Regions from separate parts of the Homo sapiens genome. Here regions 1 and 2 are each linked to region 3. The links come from fine-mapping of genetic effects on gene expression. A gene starts in region 3. Each other region holds a variant in brackets. All regions are shown on one strand. Distances are between the middles of the regions. Region 1 overlaps SYK (spleen associated tyrosine kinase). Region 2 overlaps SYK (spleen associated tyrosine kinase). Region 3 holds the start of SYK (spleen associated tyrosine kinase).

Region 1 (8,185 bases), 94 kb after region 3:
CCTGCACAACCTCAGCTCCAAGGCTTTCCTCTGAGCGGCACATCCTCTGAGAGCCCTGGGTCATTCACAGGGTCGGTGGCCACTGCCGGAGCTCCTGCTATGCAGGCTGCCACCCCAGGTGCAAGCCTCACAGAAGCCTCAGACCCTGTCCCTATCAGACCTTATAGTTGGGGCTGGGGCAGACAGGCAATAAACAATAAGCTAAAAATAAGTGTGTCCTATGATGTGTCTTAGGAAAGGGATGACTCCAGTGGGAATTCTAAGCAAGGAGGGCACAGGGGCCTGGAGGATATCACGTGTATATATGGGGTTTTTTAAGCCCTCTCGTGTCGAAGTAGTTTCTCACAGTTGCCTGCAGCACAGAAGCACATTGGAGCTTCTAGAATGTGGTGGATTCAATGAAGGGACTACAGGTGGTCCTAGTATATTCTCTGTTTTGTTTTGTTTTGCTTTGTTTTTTCATTTTTTCCTCAGTAGTAAACAGCCACTCTCTCCAAGGTGATATATAGAGACAGACAGAGAGAGCGGGAGGGAGGTAGATGAAGGGAGAGAAGGAGGGAGGGAGGGAGAGAAATAGTCTCATTAGCACAAACCCAGGTATGGTTGAAGGGGGTTTATTATGAGTAACAAAAGATGCTGCTTTCAGCCCAACAATCAGGAAATTCCAAGGGTTTTAGGAGCTCTGTGCCAGGAACCCAGGATAAAGACCATATATCTCTTTATATAAAATCACACACTGGAAACTTTAAAAGAGAACAGAAAATTATGGGGAGGGAAGCCTCACACTTCCAGCAGGGGCTCCAGATAGGCCGCCTTTAGGGATTGCAGCTGAGACCTGCAGGCTAAGAAGCAAGGTTGAGTGCAGGGATGAGGGGAGAGGAGGAGGGTCACTGGGTACAAGGAGCAGAGCAGAATCTGCACTCTGGCCCGAAAGCAGAGTGGCAGGCCAGGGCAGGCCAGGAAGCTGGGCACGCAAGGGCACTGCATCACCCTCCTGCTGCTGAAGCACAGCTGTGTCCCAGCTTCCTGGAGGCAGCATCTCCCATGGATGTACAGGAGAGATTTCCTAGGAGACCTGACCAGGTGTTTTTCCTGAGGACGAGTCTGTATTCCTGTTTCCCTGCATTTGTTTGCTCCTTGGCTGCTGGGCAGATGAACCCCCAGAGCAAGATCCAAAGGTGCTCTTTGTACCATTTGGATCCCCACAGTTGGAGCAGAGCCCCCTGTTTTGCAAAGATGCTGAAGTGTGTTCTCTTTGACTGTAGAAGTTTAGGAGCAAGACAGAGGCTGTCCCTCTGGGTGGACACATGCTCCTGTACCAGAGGCTTGGCCACCATATCCCCTCTCGGAACACACTTGGTGGCCAGAGACAAAGCCCCTCTCAGTGACACCCTGGGAGGCCCGTGTCCCCAGACATGACCACAGATGGCTGACCACACTGATCAATTCGAGCAGTTTTATCATTTTGCTCACTATTGAAAGCTATAAGAGAAACCATGTATTTTGATGCCATTTGACAAAGCTACCCATTTTGATTTGTAGAAGCCACTCTGCTCTTATAATGATGAGTGAGTCTTGGTCCTGATGCGCGTTCTATGGCTGTTCTCTTGTGTCGACATTGAATCATATGAAATTGCCATTGATATAGGTCAAAATGGCTGAATGTGGACGGTTTCCTACAATTTAACCTCACATTCTGTTTCACTTTTTCACTTATTGTATTTCAACTTCACCCACTTGCAATATATCCAGAAATCTTGCAAAATAAGAAAAATAACTTCTAAGTGAGGATCGATTATCAGGGTTTTAGTACTTACTTCCAACTGATCTGTACAGGATGTCTGTGTAAGACAAAACAGAAGTGTCTGTAAGTGTTTGTTTAGAGACTGCGAACTGTTAATGCTTTTGCCCATAGTTTACTGACATTAGTGCCTCCCTGGCCAGCAGTGGCAGTAAGGACTGGCTATATTAAGGTGGATCATAGACAAGCCCTGGGTCTTTGCTCCTGCCATGACATGTTTTGAGCTTTCCTAAGAACCCATATCAACAGCCCATTTTCAGAAAATCCAGAGCCATCGATTAGAGCGTGGAAAGGGAGAATTAAAGTTATGTTCGTATTTCTTCTCTTAACAAGATTATGAGTCAGATGTTGACTATATCTGCAGAACATTTGCCAAGTATTTTCAGACACCTGTTTTGCTAAAATCACAGAGTGACAGCCTCTTCGTGTTGCCTGTGGCACAGAAGCATATTGTGTGCCGCATATCTGAACCTGGGGCTAAAACACTCCCAGTTCTAATGCAAAAAGTCTCCTACTTTAGGGTGGACATGAATCACCGGGAGGTCTTGTTAAAGTGCAGATATGGGTTATTTAGGTCTACAGTAGGCCGACACTATTTTTGACAGCCTTGTGGTCACCCTGGGGTGGGGGGCACAGGGACCACGCTGTGAGCTGCAGGCCCTAGAGTTAGCCACCAGGGAGCAGCACCACTGGTACTCAGCCTGCAGAGGCCCTGCTTGTGATCAGCAATTTTTCACAAGCACATTGACAAACAAGAATGCATCTCTTCCATTCCAGTGTGGAAAACAGGCCCGGATTCGCAGCAGTGGAACTGCGGCTGCGCAATTACTACTATGACGTGGTGAACTAACCGCTCCCGCACCTGTCGGTGGCTGCCTTTGATCACAGGAGCAATCACAGGAAAATGTATCCAGAGGAATTGATTGTCAGCCACCTCCCTCTGCCAGTCGGGAGAGCCAGGCTTGGATGGAACATGCCCACAACTTGTCACCCAAAGCCTGTCCCAGGACTCACCCTCCACAAAGCAAAGGCAGTCCCGGGAGAAAAGACGGATGGCAGGATCCAAGGGGCTAGCTGGATTTGTTTGTTTTCTTGTCTGTGTGATTTTCATACAGGTTATTTTTACGATCTGTTTCCAAATCCCTTTCATGTCTTTCCACTTCTCTGGGTCCCGGGGTGCATTTGTTACTCATCGGGCCCAGGGACATTGCAGAGTGGCCTAGAGCACTCTCACCCCAAGCGGCCTTTTCCAAATGCCCAAGGATGCCTTAGCATGTGACTCCTGAAGGGAAGGCAAAGGCAGAGGAATTTGGCTGCTTCTACGGCCATGAGACTGATCCCTGGCCACTGAAAAGCTTTCCTGACAATAAAAATGTTTTGAGGCTTTAAAAAGAAAATCAAGTTTGACCAGTGCAGTTTCTAAGCATGTAGCCAGTTAAGGAAAGAAAGAAAGAAAAAAAAAAAAGGCCTGGATACTGCTTTTGCTGTCTCTGTTATGAGATGGAAGACTTACATGTTTGTGATAAAAGGGGACCATGAGAATGAATTGGCTTGGCTTACTTTCCCCCTGAAATCCTCTCTCCTGCAGACTGTCTTGAAGACCTGGTGACTGGTAAATAAAGCCCTGCATGGAGGCTGCACAGCAGGGGCAAGAGGCCCATCCCCCAGCATCTCACTGAGGACAGCTTCAGGCTGCCTTCCTCTGAACGTGGTCCACACCTTCCTCTCCTCCACAGAGAGGGTGCCGCCAGAATCCCCTGTCGCTTTCTGTGTCTGCAATGGGGGGCAGCACAGGGATCAAAGCCATCTAAAGAGTTTCCA[A/G]AGAAAGTATTAATTCAGAACAAGCCAAAGACCCTGAGCCTCACCACAAACAGGCCTTTTGGAGTGTGAATTTGAGTTGAAGATACAAGATCGGAGAATGATTTTCTGGTCTTAACTAATCCTCATCTTCATGTTTGATCTTTAAGAAGTCATCACCCATTGATTTCAGTTTTGCTGTACCTCTTGAAAGTTAAAGAGACATCTCAGCACTTTAGGAGGCCGAGGCGGGTGGATCACTTGAGGTAAGGAGTTTGAGACTAGCCTGGCCAATATGGTAAAACCCCATCTCTACTAAAAATACAAAAATTAGCCGGGCATGGTGGCATGTGTCTGTAGTCCCAGCTACTCGGGAGGCTGAGGCAGGAGAATCGCTTGAACCCAGGAAACGGAGGTCGCAGTGAGCCAAGATCATGCCACTGCACTCCAGCTTGGGCATCACAGCGAGACTCTGTCAAAACAAACAAACAAAAAAACAACTTAAAGAGGTAATTTAGCCATCATTCTTATGCCAGCAGATATAAATAAACTTGGACCCATCTGGTCTTCAGCTAAACCTGAGACATTTTAAAGTGCATGGACAGCCATGGACAGCAGGCCCTCCTCTAACAGGGGATGCAAGGCATGGAGAAAGACAATCAGTACCCAAGCTCAGCCACAGAAGACAGGAGTCACTCATATAACTTGTGTTTAGAAGTTTTTGGTAGCCACGCACACTTTCTGAAATCACACTATCTGGTGGTTTAATCATATTTTTAAAGACAGAATCCCTGAGTGCTGAGCAGATTCTCAAAACACATTTAGAATCCCTGAAATTAGAAAGATCAATGACAAAATATCTGTCAGCCAGGCCACAAACAGGTGTAAAATTATGAAAGGAGTGGTTGGATGTGCCAAGTTTGGTAAAGTGGTGACTGCATCTGAGAAAGAGGCTGTGAGGCTGAACTCTTGGTGGCTTCCTTCTGTAACTTCCAGAGGGAGTCTTCAACACAGGCCCCGTGCTCGTAGGAATACGGTAGCACCTATGTAGGAAGTGCGTGGAGTTTTCTGTCTTCTTTCTGTGTGATTTTTGGCCTTTTTATCAGCACTTCTCCCCTCCCAGGAGCCTGGGGATGCCAAACATCCAGAATGTGATGGGACAAGATGGGGGCAGGGGCCTCACCTCCCTGCAGAGGTCCGGCCAGGTCTCCTTGTCCCTGGACAATCTCCTGAGCCTCTCTGCTTGGTGGAGCAGGCACCTGTGTGCAGAATTCCCACTGTGGCCAGCACGAGGAAGTCTTTTCTAGTGAAAATGTGTCTTGTGGTCAGGAATAATTATCCTTTCCCCTGTAGCCACCAAGGAGGGCAAATAGAGAAAGGTAACCTAATTGAAGGATTGGTCATGTGAAAAGGGCTACATTTGGGAAGCTGGGAAAGGCCTCCAGGCTTCTAGAGCAGCTAGCTTGGGCTGGATTCTCATACCCAGGCTGCCCCTTGGATTGTTCTACCCAAGCTTTTCCCTGGGGTCTGGGCTCACTCCATAAGGTAAGGTGCCTTTTACCTTATGGTCCTTCTTTAGCAGGTAACAAAGGAGCATCAGGGGCAGGCTGCCCTGGTGGCATCACACTGGCTAGTGAGGCCGTGAATATCTTGTCCCCCAGCAGGGCCGACAGTTTCTATCACAGAAAACAGTGTGTTCAGTGGTGAAAATCGTTGCATGCATGTTTTCATCTGAGCGTGTCCTTCTCCCATACTCCCTATCAGCCAGCCCTGCCTGTAGCTGCTGTATGGTGATTGCACTTGGACATCAGTCCAATGACTGCAAGTCGGCCTGGATTTTCACTTGCAGAGGCTACAGCTGCATTGTCAGGTCTCCCAGCCCTGCAGAGAGCTCCCTCCACTGGTTAGCAGTGTGTTGTGTTTTCCATTCATTTCAGAAGAGCTACATTGTGTCACTGGACATTTTTAAAAACTGTGATTTTTAATAAAAATTTAAAATTTGCTTTGTGATGATTTTCATGGAAGTTATTAGGATGTGGTAAGTCACACTGTCAAATAGTGTCAAGCAGCATTGTCAAAGGGGTAGCTAAATGTTTTCTAAAACATTAAGTCCCTGCCATGTCCCAAAAAAGTGAATGTGTTGGCCGGGTGCAGTGGCTCATGCCTGTAATCCCAGCAGTTTGGGAGCCCAAGGCAGGAGGATCTCTTGAGCCCAGAGTTTGAGACCAGCCTGGACAACATAGTAAGACTTTAGCTCTGCAGAAATCAAAACATTAGCCGGGTGTGGTGGTATGCACCTGTAGTCCCAGCTACTTGGGAGGCTGGGGCAGGAAGATTGCTTGAGCCTGGGAGGTCGAGGCTGAAATGAGCTGTGATGGCACCACTGCACTCCCAGCTGGGTGACAGAGCAAGATCCTATCTCAAAAAAAAAAGTGGATGTGCACAGGTCAAAGTTGACTGTGAGATTCCACCACACAGAACGGCGGGGAGGCCCATCAGGGAGGGCCCTGTCCTGCCCTGCCTCTATCTTTTATTCATGAGCAGAGCATCTACCCAGCCAGGGCCTGACAGCCCATGGCCTGCCTAATAAAAGACAGACTGAGGAGACCCAGAAATCCCCCATCAGGCCAAAGCAGGGCTGTGGGTTTTGAGCTATCCCTTTCTCTATGAAGACAGCCTAAAAGGAACTGCGGTAGGCAAAGAAAGGATTCCAGAGCCCCAATTTCTGCCTGTTCTAAGGAGGTTACACACATGCGCAGACATGCACACATATACATCCACATGCACACATGCATTCACACATGCACAGAAGGCATGCACACGTGTACATATGCACACATGCATATATGTCAGTGCATACATGTATATGCACACATGTACATACACATGTGCATGGGCACAAATGCATGCATTTACATGAACACATGCATCCACACACATAAGCACATGCACAAATGTACACATGCATTCACACATGTGCACACATGTGCATGCATGTACATACACCTGTACCCACATGCACACATATACATACACATATGCAGAGACGGGCACACATACATACACATGCACACAAATACACAGAACATGCATGCACCACACAGTACACATATACACATACCAAACACATACCACATACACCTTCACACACCACACACATACATACACTGCGCATACACATACTATGCCATACACACACACCACGCAAGCACACACACACAAAACGCACACACCACCGCACATACTGAACCTTACTCCAAATAACCACTTAAAAATCCATGTGAGGCAGTGGTCCTGCAGTGGACACACCCTCGTGTCTGTATCCATCTTCATTACCACCCTCTCTGGTGTCAAGCACTAAGGGACTCTCCTCACAATCTTCCATCCTAGCCTCCCCTGGGTCCCCTCTGCTCTTGCCAAGCCAAGTTAGGTTTGGAGGAAACAATTAAGTTGGCTGGGCCAAGGCTCCCTGGGTCAGCTGGGAGATGGGAAGGACACAGACTGCCCAGTAGCCCAGTGGCCTGCGGGGGGCTGCTCCAAATACAGTGGGGTGGTGAAGAGCCCTGAAGTCAGAGAAGAACACAACACACAAGAGACCACTGGGCTCCAGCACTGACCTTAGGCATGTCCTATAAATTGAACCCCTGAGCACCACAATTTCAGCTGAGGGTGCCTATGCTGACACATGTAAGTGCCAGCACAGTGGCCTTATTCTAAAAATGTCAGCAGATGCCATGGTCTGTGCTGTTCATGCCAGTGGCCATCTGCTGGGAGGAATGCTGCAGGCAGCAGACGGCGCAGGCCCTAGGACAGCTCTGGAAATAAGCACTGGCCTTTGGCTTCAACCCCAGGGAGGGAAAAACTCTTGTGATAATGTATCACTGCACTGCAGTGAGATGGCTTTACCACTAGCCTGAGCTGCAGCAGAGAAGCGGTTTAAGACCCCGGGGCTTGTCCTTCGGAGATGAGGAGGGGACTTTAGAACTGATAGATAAATATATTCTCATTTTAGGGAGGAAGGGAGCACTTTGAAAAAGGCAGATTTTGGTTTTTAAATTATGTTTTAGTTTGTGATAAACAATGCCGTGTCTCTTTTCCTCTCTTGGTTACTCGCTGGTGGTCTCAGGGTGGAAATTCATCCCTGCTTCTGGGCAAGCAACCCTACCGAATTATTACCTCCTCTCTGGTGTTAGGCTGCAACAGGGACCAACACCTCTGTGCTGTGGGACCTCCCACCCCCTCCTGCTCCATGCTCTGTCTCCTGTGGCCTGACATTTCCAAAGAGCATCCCCAAAAAAGGCATTTCACAAAGTGTCTTCCGGGATATGAGTCTGGAAGGTGGAGACACGCTCTACAGCACGCAGTTTCCCTGATTAACTAACTTAGAAAACATGGCCAAGTACATTCACAGTGCACATTAATCTACTAATAGCTCCAAAGAGCACTGCAACCAAGATCTTTTCATGGAGCTTTTCTAGCTCAACATTCTCCTGACTTCTTTTGCCACTACCACTAGGTGCTCAATACCTATTAGCATGATAGAGTGCTGTTCCCCCCACACTCACTGGGAAATGTGCTTAAGGAGAA
Region 2 (8,185 bases), 83 kb after region 3:
AAGAACATGGGGCCAATTCTAAAACTGCTGTAGATATTAAACAGCATACCATTAAAAAGTAAACTAAACTAAAAAGTAAACCAAAGATTGTCTTTGGACAATCAATGAAGAAAAAAAGCCACTAGGGAAATAAAAGCCATCTTGGAAGCAGCAAAAAGAGACAAAACTACCGAAAAGATAGGGTAGTGGAAGATTTCTGTATGAAAACAAAGCAAAGTGAAATGGAAAAGAATAAAAAGTGGGCCGGGCGTGGTGGCTCACGCCTGTAATCCCAGCACTTTGGGAGGCTGAGGTGGGTGGATTACCTGAGGTCAGGAGTTCGAGACCAGCCTGGCCAACATGGTGAAATCCCGTCTCTACTAAAAACACAAAAATTAGCCAGGCATGGTGGCAGGCACCTGTAATCCCAGCTACTCTGGTGGCTGAGGCAGGAGAATTGCTTGAGCCCGGGAGGTGGAGGTTGCAGTGAGCTGAGATCGTGCCACTGCACTCTAGCCTGGCCAACAGAGCAAGACTCTGTCTCAAAAAAAAAAAGGAATAAAAAGTGAAACAAGATCAAAGAAAAGTGCTAGCTGTGGAAGCAAACGAACGCTGGCACTCGGGAAACCATGCGTGACAGGGTAGATTTGTGCAGCATCACAACTGAAAAACACAGGTGTTCTTTGATCCAGCAGCTCCTTCCGAGAGCAAACACACACATCTGGTAATGTGCACTCTAGCACGGGCTGCCACGGCAAAAATCTGGAAACTGCCTGACGACTGCTCCGCAGGGTTTGGTCCAATCAGTCATAGCAGATTCACAGGAAGCTCACAATGCAACCCTTTTAAAAGTGACTTATTTGCATGTGCTGACCTAGAAATATGTCTACTATACATGGTTAGGTAGAAAAATTAAAAAGTACAGTGCTCAAAGAATATGCCCCTAGTTTTATGACCAGAAAAAAGTATACACTACCTATTTATGCATGTATCTAGGTTATTCTGAAGACAGCCTAAATTTCATTGCATTTAAGATTTGTCAAAGGTTTACTTTTTTCATCAGTTCAAAATTCAGAAGAAACCTGAAATAACACACATGGTTGTATTGTTCATGACTTGTAAGATCAAAATTTTAAAATAGCACACAAGGTGATGGAAACAGAAGTATAATCAGTTGTATCATTTGGAAGAGAAGTGCCAGGGCACCTTATGGTCTCCAGATTGATGTCCTGAATGTCTCCTTGTGATCCACTGTAGTGTCATGAAATCAGTTTTCACTGAAATCATGTCCCCCTCTCCACCCCAATGAGACCTCACACAGGTGACATCAGCAGAAGATAACCAGACTCCGCTGTGTGCCCCCTGAATCCCAAACCCAGAGAGAGGGTTTTGCTATGCAGTTTTGACCTCTGTACTATCACTTGCTTTTTAAAATTAGGAAATTAGAATGCTTAGATCATTTTTTAATGATGCTAGCAAGTAGTGCATGCTAAAATAATTGACCTGGGTGGAGAACTGATCAAGATGGACGACTAAATGCAACTAGTATATGCTCCTCCGTAGAGACGGACCAAAATAACAAGTACATATTCACACTTCCAATAGATGGTCTAAGAGAGAACACAGATGCAACCAAGGAGCGACAGGAAGCACCAAAAGCAAAGCACAGGGAAACAAGGCAGCCTGCTTGGCCAGGAATGACTGGGAGCTGGGAGAAGCTTCCAGATATGGGGAAAGCATAAATGAGAGATCCCCAGGGCTCCACATTCCAGCCAAGGACTTCTACAATCCTAGCGACAGAAGAACCCCTCGACCCACGTGGGCCTTAAGACTAACATAGGGAGCTGCCTAGGGATCACACAGAGGCATTGCTCCATAGAGGGAACTCACGCTGAGTCCCACAGGCTTCCAAGCTCTGAGTAGCTGCAGCTTGGTGCCATACTGAGAACCAAGTCCCCAAAGGACTGCATCTTGCCCTGGGACTATTGCTGATGCTGCCATCACCAGGCCAAGGACAGAGGGGAGAATGGACACCTTCACACACCCCAGGGACAGATCCCCCTGCTGCTACAGGCTGCTGTGGGGCTGAGACACAAGCAAATCACACCCCCTATAGCTGCCTGCCTACACTGCTCCCCCTGAGAATGTCCGCAGCCTCCCCAGGAGCAGGCCCATAGCCAGCGCCATTCTGAGAGCCAAGCCTCCAAAGGTCTGTGTCCTTCCTTGGGCCAGGGCTGATGCTGCCACTGCCCCGCCACATAGGGAGAAGGGAGGCCAGGCACTTTCACATGCCACAAAAACAAATACCACCACCACTGCTGAGGGCTGCTGTGGGACCAAGGCTCAAGAAGACTGCATATCCCACAGCTACCTGCCTACTCTGCACCTATTGAGAGTGGCCCTACCCTTTCTGGTGGTAGGCCTTCAGGGCAGCCACTGCTGGCAACCTAGAGACCACCCCTCCCTGCGTATCACAGCCAGCAGCTGAATGCACCACCAGGGAGCCTGAGCACAAGTCCATTGGCCTAGTCACATGCCCCAATACTTGAGCATGACATCCTGTTGCAGCCACCGCCAACACCAACATGGACCACTTGGGTTCCAGTGAGTTGCCCTACCACCATTACTGCCATCACCCACATCACACCCACTCCCCAGGAACCCAAGAACCTGCCCACATGCCCAGCCACTGCAGCATCCACACAATCTACCTGAAAGCCCAAGGGTCAGCCTTCTTAGACCTACTAACACCAGTGCTAGTGTATACCGCCCTAGGGCCCAAGGACAGGCATACTCAGCTCACTGCTGTCACCACTGGGGTCTGAAGACTGGCCCACCTAGCATCCTATTCACAGTACACCTTCACAACAGCCTCCACTAATAACCATACCCTAAGGCACTGAGAAAATCACAGGTGTCACTGAGGCTGTTTATGGCCATAGAAATTATACATAGATTAAATACTGCATTCACCCCAAATCAAACCCAAAGTGCCCTACATATATATATGTGTGTGTGTATATATACACACATACACATACGTGTATATATACACACATACACATACGTGTATATATACACGCATATACACATACACATACGTGTATATATACACATACACATACACATACGTGTATATATACACACATATACACATACGTGTATATATACACACATATACACATACACATACGTGTATATATACACACATACACATACGTGTATACATACATACACACATACGTGTATATATGCATACATACACATATGTGTATATATACATACATATACACATATGTGTGTACATATACATACACATACACATATGTGTGTACATATACATACACACACATACACATATGTGTACATGTACATACATACACATACACATATGTGTACATGTACATACATACACATACACATATGTGTACATGTACATACATACACATACACATATGTGTACATGTACATATATACACATATACACATATGTGTACATGTACATATATACACATATACACATATGTGTACATGTACATATATACACATATACACATATGTGTACATGTACATATACACATATACACATATGTGTACATGTACATATACACATATACACATATGTGTACATGCACATATACACATGTGTACATGCACATATACACATATGTGTACATACACATATACACATATGTGTGTATATACATATACACACATATGTGTGTATATACATATATACATATATACATATATATACATATGCACATATGTGTATATATACATATATATACATATGCACATATGTGTATATATATACACACATATATGTGTATATATATATATACCCAACATAT[A/G]TATACCCAACAACATATATATATTTTCAGGAAAAAGACCTCCTCTACAAAAGCAATTTCAAAAAACTGGAAGAAATGACTGTTGTACCACATGGGCAGATATCAATGTAAGAACACAGGAAACATGAAAAAGCAAGGAAATATGATACCTCCAAAGGAACACACAATTCTCCAGCAAAAAAATCCCAATCAAAAAGAAATTCACAAAACCCCAGATGAACAATTCAAAATATTGATTTTAAAGAAGCTAAATAAGATATAAGAGAATTCTGAAAAACAATAGAGAGAATTCAGAAAAACAGTTCAGGATATGAATGAGAAATTTATCAAAGAAATAGATATTTTTAAAAGAACCAAACAGAAATTCTGGAACTAAAGATTCATTGAATGCAATAAAAAATACATCCCAAACTCCACCAATAGACTAGATCAGGCAAAAGAAAGAATCTCAGAACTTGAAGACAGGTCTTTTGAAACAACCTATTCAGACAAAAATAAAGAGAAAAGAATAAAAAAGAATGAGCAAACCCTTCATGATATATGGGGCAGTGTAAAGCAACTGAATATTCAAATCATCAGTGTCCCCAAGGGTGAAGAGAGAATGAAAGATTAGAAATCCTATTTAATGAAATATTAGATCAAAACTTCCCAAATATAACAACAAACCTAGACATCCAGATGCAGGAGGCCCAAAGGTCCCCAAACAGATACAATGCAAAATCATCTTCTCCACAGCACGTTATAATCAAACCACTTAAAGTCAAAGCAAAAGCAAATATACTAAAAAGAGCAAAAGAAAATCTTCTAATTACCCATAAAGGAACCACCATTAGACTAACAGTGGATTTCTCAGCAGACACCTTACAGGCCAGGAGAGAAGGGGATGACATTTTCAAAGTGCTGAAAGAAAAATACTGCCACCCAAGGAGACCATGTCCAGCAAAACTATTCTTCATAAATAAAAGAAAAATAAAGCCTTTCCCAGGTAAGCAAACACTGAGGGAATTCATCACCACTAGACTGATCCTAGAAGAAATACTCAAAGGAATCTTAAACGTGGAAGTAAAAGGACAATATTTACCATCATAAAAACACACAAAAGTATAAAACTCACTGGTAAACCAAACATACAAATAATCCTGTTAAATAGTGGGCTAAGAACATAGATAGACATTTCTCAAAAGAAGATATACAAATGGCCAACAGGTATATGAAAAAATGCTCAATATCACCAAACAGCAGGGAAATGCAAATTACAAACACAATGAGATACCATCTTACCCCGGCTAGAATGGCTGTTATTAAAAAGACTTTTTTTAAAAAAATGCTTTGCAGATGCAGGAAAAAAAGGAACTCTTATACACTGTTTGTGGGAATGTAAATTAGTATAGTCACTACGGAAAATATTAGAGAGACTTCTCAAAACAAAAACAGGCTGGGCACGGTGGCTCACACCTGTAATCCCAGCAGTTTTGGAAGCCCGAGGCAGGCAGATCACAAGGTCAGGAGATCAAGACCATCCTGGCTAACACGGTGAAACCCTGTCTCTACTAAAAATACAAAAAATTGGCCAGGCCTGGTGACAGGTGCCTGTCATCCCAGCTACCTGGGAGGCTGAGGCAGAAGAATGGCATGAACCCAGGAGGCGGAGCTTGCAGTGAGCTGAAATCACACTACTGCACACTCCAGCCTGGGCGATAGAGTGAGACTCCATCTCAAAAACAAAAAGAAGAAAAAAAAACTAACTACACATAGAATTACCATATGATCCAGCAAGTCTACTATTGGGTATTTATCCAGAGGCAAATAAACTTGTATCAAAGGGACACATACACTCAACGTGCTTATCATAGAACTATTCACAATAGCAAAGATGTGGAATCAACCTAACTGTCCATGGATGGATGAATGGATAAAGAAAATGTGGTGTGTATATATATATATACACCTCTAGAGGTGTTCACTGGTTACTTAGGGTACACCCTATGTAAATGAAGAGGCTAAAGTGAAGTTACAAAGTTATTTACTTGGTGTACACCCTATGTAAATGAGGAGGATGAAGTAATGTTACAAAGTCATTTACTGAGTGTACACCCTGTGTAAATGAAGAGGATATTTCCTGTCATAGCTGAAGTGTTTCCATTTGATTTAGTTCTAGGAAGTCCTTAGGTTCCCTGCCTCCAGGCCCTATTCTCCTGTCTCAATTTCACTCAGCATAATGTCCTCTAGGCTCATGCATATTGTAGTGAATTCCCTTCCTTTTGAAGGCTGAATGCTATTCCATTGTCTATATAGAGGGTGTTTTGTTTATCCACTCATCTGCTGAAGGACACTTGGGTTGCTTTCATGTTTTAGCTATTGGGAATAATGCTGCTATGAACATGAATGTACACAATTTTATGCTTTTCTTTCTTTCTTTTTTTTTTTTTTTTGAGATGGAGTCTCTCGTTGTGTCACCCAGGCTGCAGTGCAGTGGTGTGATCTGAGATCACTGCAACCTCTGCCTTCTGGGTTCAAGCAATTCTCCTGCCTCAGCCTCCCAAGTAGCTGGAATTACAGGCACCCGCCACCACACCTGGCTAATTTTTGTATTTTTAATAGAGATGGGGTTTCCTCTTGGCCAGGCTGGTCTCAAGCTCCCGATCTCAAGTGATCTGCTCTCCTCAGCCTCCCAAAGTGCTGGGATTACAGGCATGAACCAATGTGCCCGGCCCACAATTTTATTCTTAATGGAATTTCTCCCTCTGCTTTGCTTTTAGGCCCAGACCCATGGAAAGTGGCCTGTCAAGTGGTACGCTCCGGAATGCATCAACTACTACAAGTTCTCCAGCAAAAGCGATGTCTGGAGCTTTGGAGTGTTGATGTGGGAAGCATTCTCCTATGGGCAGAAGCCATATCGAGTGAGCCAGTCCTGCTTCATTTTCTCACTGTGGGGCCATTAGAACAGATAAGCACCAGATTGTCTTTACAACAACCTGAAAATCCTAATCTGAGTCTCTCATTATCTTTTACCAGTAAGCAGTTAATGTGCCCTCAGTCTATTCCAAACTGAGAATGAAATATCTGATGCTCACTGAAGAGTGTGTTTTTCCCATTGTGTGTCAACACATGTAAATATACACAAAATATAACCCAGATCATTACTCATTAGAGTTGAAATAGAAATAATGACTATTTACAGTATCTTAATTACATTTTTTAGATCTTTTAATTAAAACATATATACCAAAAAGGGCACAACTCTTAGCATGCAGTACAGTGGTTTTCCACAAATGAAACATACCCATGAAATCAGCCCCCAGATGAAGAACAGAACCCCAGAAGCCTGTTTCCTCTGCACACACAGCCTTCCCCAGGGGTGACCCAACTGACTCCAACATCACAGATTAAGTGCTCCTGTTTTTATACTTCGTATAATTGAAATCATACAATGTGTACTCCTTCATGTCTTGGAGTGGCTGTTTTGTTTTGTTTGACTAACACCTTTAAAAAAAAAAAAGCTTATGCATATCTTGCATGTTGTAGGGGATGAAAGGAAGTGAAGTCACCGCTATGTTAGAGAAAGGAGAGCGGATGGGGTGCCCTGCAGGGTGTCCAAGAGAGATGTACGATCTCATGAATCTGTGCTGGACATACGAGTGAGTACCTGACACTGACTGTGATGTATTCAGATGCTCTGGAAACAGGTGAAATGGTTGGGCGTCTAAAAAAAAGGATAAAGTTCACCTTTTCATGAATCAGGAATGTGCCCGCTTTCTAAACAAACAACGGTGGGGGCTGGTCTTGCTTTAGAGACCTTGCTTTCTGGCCCATGCACTTACATGTAGTAGAGCCTAAAGAGCAAGTTTAGATGGGGACTCTAACCCGAGTGTCCAAATTTAAATGTCGATAATGGTGGAGAGATGGGGCAAGGGCAGTCAAAGTAAAAAAGTGTTTGTAAGAGTTTGGGGCTGGATGCCATTTTTGGCATAGAGGATGGCAGAAGCACTCGGTAGGGGATGGTATACTTTCCTGACTCCCTGATTACCATGAGCAGTGAGGGGTGACCTCGGACTCTGGCCAGCTCACAGATACATTGGCTAAGGTTGCACTTCCCTAGAATCTACCTCATCCTTGAAGTGGTGGCCTCAGTCCACCCTGACTGCCGTCATACGTCTCGCTTAGTGGATCCCAGGTGCTGTTATGCTTTTAAAGTACACCTGGCATTATTCTTAGGTGATGTTCAGGGCAGCTCAGCAAGGAAGGAAAATGCATTGCCACTGAAAATTAGGAGTACAGTTTTGCCAGGCTCAGCAGCCTGCTTGTGCGTGCATAGCACGGTGACCCCAAGCCGCCATCTCCAGTTCCCTGGT
Region 3 (8,185 bases):
ATCCCATTTCAGAATTTTTTATTCTGTTAAATTTAAGTAGAATTAAATATCATATTTAACATGGATAAAATGTATAATAAATGTATTATATTTAAAATGATGCCCATTTTTATATCTATTGCCATGTGTACATATAGAAAGAGATAATTTTGTAAGGGTCACCTAACGGTAATGATGATTATGTCTGAAATTTGGGATGTTTCTATTTCCTTTGTGCTTTTATTCTTTTAAGGGATTGCCTATTAGGAATACTTGCCACTGTTACCAAAAAAACTATTTTTTTAAATTAAACACTATTTTTTAGAGCAGTTTTAGGTTCACAGTAAAAATGAGAGGCAGGTACCGAGGTTTCCCATATACCCACTGACCTCACACATGCACAGCCTTTCCCATTATCAACAGCCCCATCAGACTGGTACATTTGTTACAATTGATGAACCTACTTTGACACATCATAATCACCCAAAGCCTGAAGTTTACACTGATGTTCCCTCTTGGTGTTGTATATTGTATGGTGTTTAACAAATGTATAGTGCTGTGTATCCACCATTGTAATATCATACAGCATACTTTCACAGCCCTAAAAAATCTCTGTTCTCCTTCTATTCATCCTGCCCTCCCCACCAGCCCATGGCAGCCACTGATCTTTTTACTATCCAGATAGTTTGGCTCTTTCCAGAATATCACCTGTTGAAATTATACAGTATGTAGCCTTTTCAGAGGGCTTCTTTCACTTGGTAATATGCATTTAGATTTCATCCATTTCTTTTCATAACTTGCTAGTGCATTTCATTTTAGTGTGGAACAATATTCCATTACACTGATGTACAAGAGTTTATATATCCATTCACTTACTGAATGACATCTTGTTTGTGTCCAAGTTTTGGCAATAAACTTAGTAAATAAAGCCAGCGTAAACATTTGTGTGCAGATTTTTGTGTGAACATAAGGTTTGAACTCCTTTGGGTAAATACCAAGAAGCACAATTACTGGGTACTACTTTAGGTAAATACCAACTACTTTGGGTAAATACCAAGAAGGACAATCCTCTTATAATTACTCATGTTGTAAGAGGATGTTTAGTTTCATAAGAAACTGCCAAACTGTCTTCCACAGTGGCTGTACCATCTTGCATTCACAACAGCAATGAATGAGTATTTCTATTGCTTCACATCCTCACTAGTGTTCACTGCGGTCAGTGTTCCGAATTTGGGCCATACTGATATCTTACTGTCTTCATTTGCATTTCCCTGATGATACATAATGTGAACCATCTTTTAGGCTAGGCATGGTGGCTCACGCCTGTAATCCCAGCATTTTGGGAGGCCAAGGCAGGCAGATCACGAGGTCAGGAGATCGAGACCATCCTGGCGAACACGGTGAAACCCCGTCTCTACTAAAAATACAAAAAATTAGCCGGGCATGGTGGCGGGCGCCTATAGTCCCAGCTACTCGGGAGGCTGAGGCAGGAGAATGGCGTGAGCCCAGGAGGCAGAGCTTGCGGTGAGCTGAGATGATCGGGCCACTGTACTCCAGCCTGGGCAACAGAGTGAGGCTCCGTCTCAAAAAAAAAAAAAATTACTACATGATACTAAGTAATGCGGAAGGTGACTCAAAGGGGGAAAGGAACACAGCAGTGTAAAGGAAGGAGGTTGTAGATGGATCTAGAATTTCCCCCTCATTTCCATCAGGTGAAAGCCTGAGAAAACTGCAATCTTTGTGCAGGCTGGGTTTGCTTTGTACACACTGGTCCCCTAGTGTTCATCTCCAATAATGCTGACAACTCTGAAAACCATCTGTAGACATTCTGCAGGCTCCATCTCAGGAACAATGGCTATTTTTTCGGGTAGTTGAAGCAAAATTAAGTCCAATGATAAGCAAATATAACCATTATCAAAATCTTCCATTTATGTTTGTTAAAGCAACCTAAGTATGATCTGAGAAGGACTCTGTATTCTATATTTGAGTCCTTGTGGATGAACTGTAACCTAGCTTAATAGGCAGACAAGATTGAAAACCTAATTTAGGAGTATGTGCCTTTAACAATAGCTGAGTCTTGGCCAATCCCAGTGGCCATACTTCAACCATTCATACACTGCTGAGTGTTCAAACTGTGTTCAAAGAAGGCAAAAGCCAACCTGTAACCAATCCAGTTGTTTCTCTGCCTTACCTCCAATTTCTGTATGTCACTTCCCTTTTTTTGTCTATAAATATGTTCTGACCATGAGGCATCCCTGGAGTCTCTGAATCCGCTGTGATTCTGGAAGCTGCCCCATTCGCAAATCATTCATTACTCAATTAAACTGCTTTAAATTTAATTCTGCTGAAGTTTTCTTTTAACAGGTTTAGAAAAAATAATGGCAAAAATGAATGAAAATCCAATAACCCTGGAAGCAGAAAAGGCTGGGGGCTCCAATAAGTGTAAATAGTCCCATCCCTATATTTTCTCCATGGCAATTACAATCCAGCACATTATATATATATTTTTTTGCTTCTCGCATTTTGGCTTAGGGTAAAGCTTTTTAAAACAGGCACTGCCAACCAGTGTTATCAAGAAGGTCTGGATGCCGTTTTGTGGGAACATTTTAAAGAGGAATGTCCAAAAGGAAAAGGGGGATGGGTTGGGAGAAGGGTATCAGGCGGGTATCTCAAAACCATTCTTAGGGCTATAGGTTTAATTTATTTGGTTGTGGACGTCAGAGCCGTCATGGTAAGAAGGAAGCAAAGCCTTTTGTAATAATTAAAGCCTTCAGAAGCAGCGTGCCCCATTGCCCACTAGTGCGCCGTGAAGTCTGGTGTTCACCTACAGGGTCCCTCTCAGCACTGCCCAGGCCTCCCGAGTGCTCCAGCACAGTAGCTTGGAGCTTGTTGGTTTGGTGACCAAGATACACTCCAGGGAATATGCCATGCAGTGGAGTCTCTTCCCCGGCACTGCATAGCAAAAGGAAAGGGCCGCTGGGTGTCTGTGGGTCCTGGGCAGTCACAGAAGCCACCGCGCTGGCGGGGAGGAGGGGGACCGATGCGGTCCATGTCCCGGGCAGCCCCACCTTCTCTGCCTGCGAAGGGCCCTTGTCCGGCGGGAGGAGAGAGGCGCGCCCCACCCGGGCTCCTCTACACCTGCCGCCGCCTGGGCCGATTCCGCGGGCCTCGCCCGGCGCTTCAGCCGATTCCCGCCCAGCTCCGGGCTCATGGGCGCGGTCAGCAGGGCGGGCCAGGGCGGCGGGGCGCGACACTGGGAGGAAGTGCGGGCCGCCTGCCCGGGCGCGTTAAGGAAGTTGCCCAAAATGAGGAAGAGCCGCGGGCCCGGCGGCTGAGGCCACCCCGGCGGCGGCTGGAGAGCGAGGAGGAGCGGGTGGCCCCGCGCTGCGCCCGCCCTCGCCTCACCTGGCGCAGGTAGGTGTGGCCGCGTCCCCTACCCGGCCGGGACTTTCTGGTAAGGAGAGGAGGTTACGGGGAACGACGCGCTGCTTTCATGCCCTTTCTTGTTCTACCTTCATCGGCCGAGGTAAAAGTGCTGAAACCATGTGAATAAAATACAGGTGGGTTCCGCCAGCTTCGCTCCTGAACCTACCCGCGCTCGGGATCCAGAAGCTGCGCCGGGAGAGAGGGGCTCAGGCCTGGGCGGAGGGGACGGAGGTCAGACCGTGCGGAAAGTGACCCGGGCACCCCAGGGCGCCCAGGCCCCCAGGGAGCGCGGAAAGTGCGGTCGCGGCCCGGCCCTCGGGAGACGCGGGATTGGGATCAGGCACAGCGCGAGGAAGTCGATCTTGGAGCTAGAACATTTTCCTTTGGCCATTTACACGAATCCACTGGAAAATGCCGCAGTGTTTATCAAAGTTACTCAAAGTAGAAATGTCCAGACGTCTTATGAGCTTAGACAAATCTTTTACTACAAAAAGAAACAGCAGTTGCATTCAAACAACAACCCTTCTGAACCACTACTAAAATTTAGCATAATTACTCTTGTGGATACATTTTCATTGTCAAGTAATTTACTTAGCCAATGAACTTGGAGAGCAAGAAAGTTTTATGTAGTAAAATGTAAATTTGAGTTAAGAGTTAAGGGTGTTTCTTTTTGTCTGTTTGTCTGTTTTTGGCAATGTGGCTCCAAAACCTTAAGCCCACCTAAAAACTATATAAATGCAATCCATTCTTTTGTTGGAATGTTCAAGGACTAGAAAGACAATTGGAGAAGTGAGAGTTTGAATCTTTTTTTACGTTGGAAACAGTGTTGCAAAATATTTTTTGAGTTTTGCCTGACTTAGCAAAGATTCAGTCGAACTCAAGTAGAGTTCAAAGCATTGCAGCGTGTAGTAAAAAAAAAAAAGAGTTGAAGATGTTGTGCCATATCTGATTCTTGGTATTAAAAATAAAAAAAGGAACCATTTAATCCCTAAGAGTTCCTGGAAGAAATGGAATTGATTCTACCATCTGACTTCTTTGTCTTAGTAGGGACAAATTCATTGCCTTCACACAGGCAGCATTTTAATTAAATGCAACTAAATACATTGATGTCCTCCTTCTCCCCAGTGAAAGTCCGAGCAGTGCATAGATAGAATTATATTTTCTCAAAAAGGCTTAAATACATGTAAATTATTAAGTGTTTTAAGTGAGAAATCTTTGTCAGTTGAAATTATTTTATCAAATCATTTTTGTTCTGAACGGCACTTTTGTTTTAACGTATTTAGAAAACTCTTGCATTAAAACAGAAATTGATTTGTATTATCCCCTGTATTTGAAGTGCACTTTAAAGTGTATTTGAATGAGAGATTATAATCAAATTACTTGATTTGTGTCTTATCCTCTTACTCTTCTACCTTGGATTTGAAAAGGTTGGATTTGAACACTAGGAAAAAAGAGATTTTTCTACTGAGGGATTGTGGGAAGATTTTTTTTTAAGCCTCTGTATTTGAAGTGAAATATAAAATAGGATTTTATAATAGTCTTAATAACTAGAAAGTTTTAAGCTAGGATAAAAATGGGGTGTATACTTTAGGTCTTTATCTTTCCTGAGAGATGAAATTGGTAGAAACGTTATTTTATTGCTAGATTTCACTTTAGAAATGAATCACCCTGATCTTTGTTAGGCCCCTATTTAATATTCTAAATGCAGGTCTAATCTCTCTGCTTTTTTTTAATGGAAGACTTCTTAGTAGAACTTCACTTATTTAGCACATTGTTTGCCCATGGTTATAATCCAATATGCTTGTGCCAAGACGTATTTTGGAATTCAAGCTTTTTCAGAATTTGGAATTAAAATTTAGAATCTAAATTTCAGAACTGAGAAAGACATTGCTCAGAATTTAGAAAGGTAAACATACATGTTGACCCTGCTGGTTACATGCCATTCCAATATAGTCTGGAGAGAATCCTGTAATTCCATGCATTAATATTTCTGTACTTTTACATTTAAGAACATGAATATTCTCACTAAGTGGAATAAATAAAGACTATAAAGAGCTGTGTGTCTGTTTAGAGCAGGTGTTATCACTACGAGAGCTTCTCTAAGACTTACCAAAAAAAAAAAAAGTGTTGTTTTTCAGAGCTTTTTAGAGCTGCAGCTGAGGGACTGAGTCTGTATTAGACTCCACTGAACTACGGTTTGCTTTTAAAAGGAAAGTGCATTTATGTTGTTCAATACTTCACACTTTCCAGTAATTAGAAGGGCAGTTCCTCTCTCTTTAGGGAGTCTTAAATAGCAAGATTTTACTGAATTTTCAATCATACCGATCAAAATAGAGGTACTTCAAGTAAGAGTGGATGTCTCATCTTTGTAATATAATTTCAAACAGCATAGTTTCTGACAGTCTACCATTTTAGAGAAACAGAGCAGAAGTTACTTACAGGAGGGGTTACTGTCACCCTTTACAGCTGCAGTCTGTCCATGGAAGAAATATTATTTCCTGTTAACTTTGCAACCAGCTGGGTTTGTGTCAGTTATCTAAGCCTAAGTGATGGCTAATTTTTACTTTCTCAACTTTCCCTGTATAGATTTTTTTCCAGCTACCCCCTGACTTTTCTACTCTTGCTTTGCTGGTTTTAACATTTTCCACTACTTCTGGATTGGTTTAGCTATAACTGGGTGGAGAAAACAACAACAACAACAGGAATTTAGGCCTTTGGGGAAGAATTTGTTTTGTTTTAGAAGTCTACACATTGAGCATTACTTTTTCTTCTAAAGCAACTAAAATCAGAAGGCAGAGTCCTAATGAGAGATTATGATCAAATTGCCTCATTTGTGTCTTATCACCTTCCTCTTCTACTTAGATTTGAACAGGTTGGATTTGAATACTAGGAAAAAAGGGTTTTCTACTGAGGGATTGTGGGAAGATGTTTTAAGAACTAGTCTGATTGGATTTTAGGAAAGTTCATTCATTTTGATATGATGTTATCAGGGACATTTTCTATTTGCTTATAATTTTATCTGACCAATATTAGCTTGTATCAATTTGAGGTTTTTTTTTCCTTTATGAATCAATTGTGCAAGGTTTGCCCTACATCTCTTAAAAGGTGGTTAAACTGGAATCTTAAAGACAGTTGAATTTAGCCAAGACCAAAGATATGCAAAGAAAGAATATTTTGTTTATGTTACAGTACATTTAATAAATCCAAATGGCTCCCTTGATTCTTTTCTTTCTGGGACACCACGTATTGATTTCTGGCAGCTGGCCAAAGGCAGATGGTGGTGGAGCAAGCGAGGACAGTTAAGAATGTTGATGATTACTGGATTACTGAGGAGTACTGTGAGCTTTCTGGTCCTCTGCTCAGAGGTGTCTAGCTCTGAAACTGGGATCCTGGCTCTGAGCTGGAGAGGCGCTTCCAGTTACTGCTGTCCTGGAGCGCTGGAAGGGAGCATAAGTGTGAGGAGACAGTGGGCTTTTAGCCTGGGATGCAGATGAGAGATGTCTTGACCTGAGTGAAAACCTTGCAGGCAAGCTGCAGGTCTACCGAGCAGGGTGAGGGAGGCTCTCGACCTGGATACTGTGAACTAGGGAGAGAAAGTAAATTCAACAGAAGGAGGGCCCAGGGCAGAGATTTAGGAATATCCACAGTTTAAATATTGCTTTACTTAAGTATACTCTGCCTGACTATAAGTAGCATTTGAATGTTCAACATATGACCTTTCATTTCTCCCCTCCATTGGTTTGTCTTAACTGATAAATCTTTATTTTCCCATGGTCAACCTGGTAGTTTATTAATATTACATCTATCAGTTCCTGTTGAGTTGACATGAAAATGTTTTGGTGTGACCTAAGTTAATTTCTCTTTTTGTTTAATTTTAATTTGTAATGAGTTCCTCTTTTCATTCTGCCCATCCTTTGGTACTGCTTTGAGTTATGTCCTCTAGAATTCTCACTATTTCCTTATGATTGGCATATTTTCAAAGTTTTTTGGTGTACTAATTTTAAACAGTGTTTGTTGACACTGAGAATTCAGGACTTTGGAGTTTTAGACCACCATCACCTTCTACTCCTTCTCACACCATCCCAGGATAATTATTCTCTCATTTGAGATTAAGAAGTTATTTGGTTTATTTTATTATGGTTATATAAATATAGTTTACTGCTAAAGCAAGGTATATCATTCCATTTTCTATCTCGTACCCCTTTTTGCTCTTCCTGGGGTAAACCCTTGCTTTGTTTTTGTGTTTTCTTAGTTTGCACTGTGCCTATTATCATTTCCTTCCCAACTTTCTGACATAAAGATGAAAGCCCTATTGACACAATTTTCTACAGTGTCAGATATACCAAGTAATCTCACGGTTCCATTTTTCTTTCTTTTTTTCTAGAACCCTCCATCTTCTTCTTGTCTAACAGTTGCTCTTCAGTCTTGCTATACATACAGTAATACCTGAAGAATGTTTGGAGGATATTTGGTGTGGGACTTTTCTTTTTTTTTTTTCTTTTTCTTTTTTGTAGAGATGGGCTCTCACTATATTGCCCAGGCTAGTCTCAAACTCCTGGGCCCAAGCAATCCTCTTGCCTCAGCCTCCCAAAGTGCTGGGATTATAGGCATGATCCACTGTGCCCAGCCCTATGGGGAATATTTGTTGACTAAATATGTTTTATGTAAATTGCTTATCATACTCTTTGTTGTAACATCTGTGGCATTAATATGCCTCTTGTTAACACTCACCTACATTTTACCTGTTGTAAATCCACTGTCATAATTATTGAAAATATTT

What was found. PIP is the estimated chance that this variant, and not a neighbour inherited with it, causes the effect.
Region 1: its variant is fine-mapped to the expression of SYK in whole blood (TOPMed, PIP above 0.99).
Region 2: its variant is fine-mapped to the expression of SYK in whole blood (INTERVAL, PIP above 0.99).

The regions. Positions count from the first base shown.
Region 1 is chr9:90,892,950-90,901,134 of GRCh38, forward strand. It overlaps SYK (spleen associated tyrosine kinase), which reads left to right. Exons shown (of 14, transcript NM_003177.7): 14 at 2,579-5,600. The coding sequence ends at 2,651. Among named protein-coding and RNA genes, the nearest start is that of SYK, 95 kb to the left of the region's middle. The variant A/G (reference allele first, on the strand shown) is at 3,623.
Region 2 is chr9:90,881,157-90,889,341 of GRCh38, forward strand. SYK (spleen associated tyrosine kinase) reads left to right here. Exons shown (of 14, transcript NM_003177.7): 12 at 6,593-6,733; 13 at 7,359-7,471. Among named protein-coding and RNA genes, the nearest start is that of SYK, 83 kb to the left of the region's middle. The variant A/G (reference allele first, on the strand shown) is at 3,834.
Region 3 is chr9:90,798,501-90,806,685 of GRCh38, forward strand. SYK (spleen associated tyrosine kinase) reads left to right here and starts at 3,319. Exons shown (of 14, transcript NM_003177.7): 1 at 3,319-3,393. RefSeq lists silencers at 3,068-3,277, 3,298-3,457.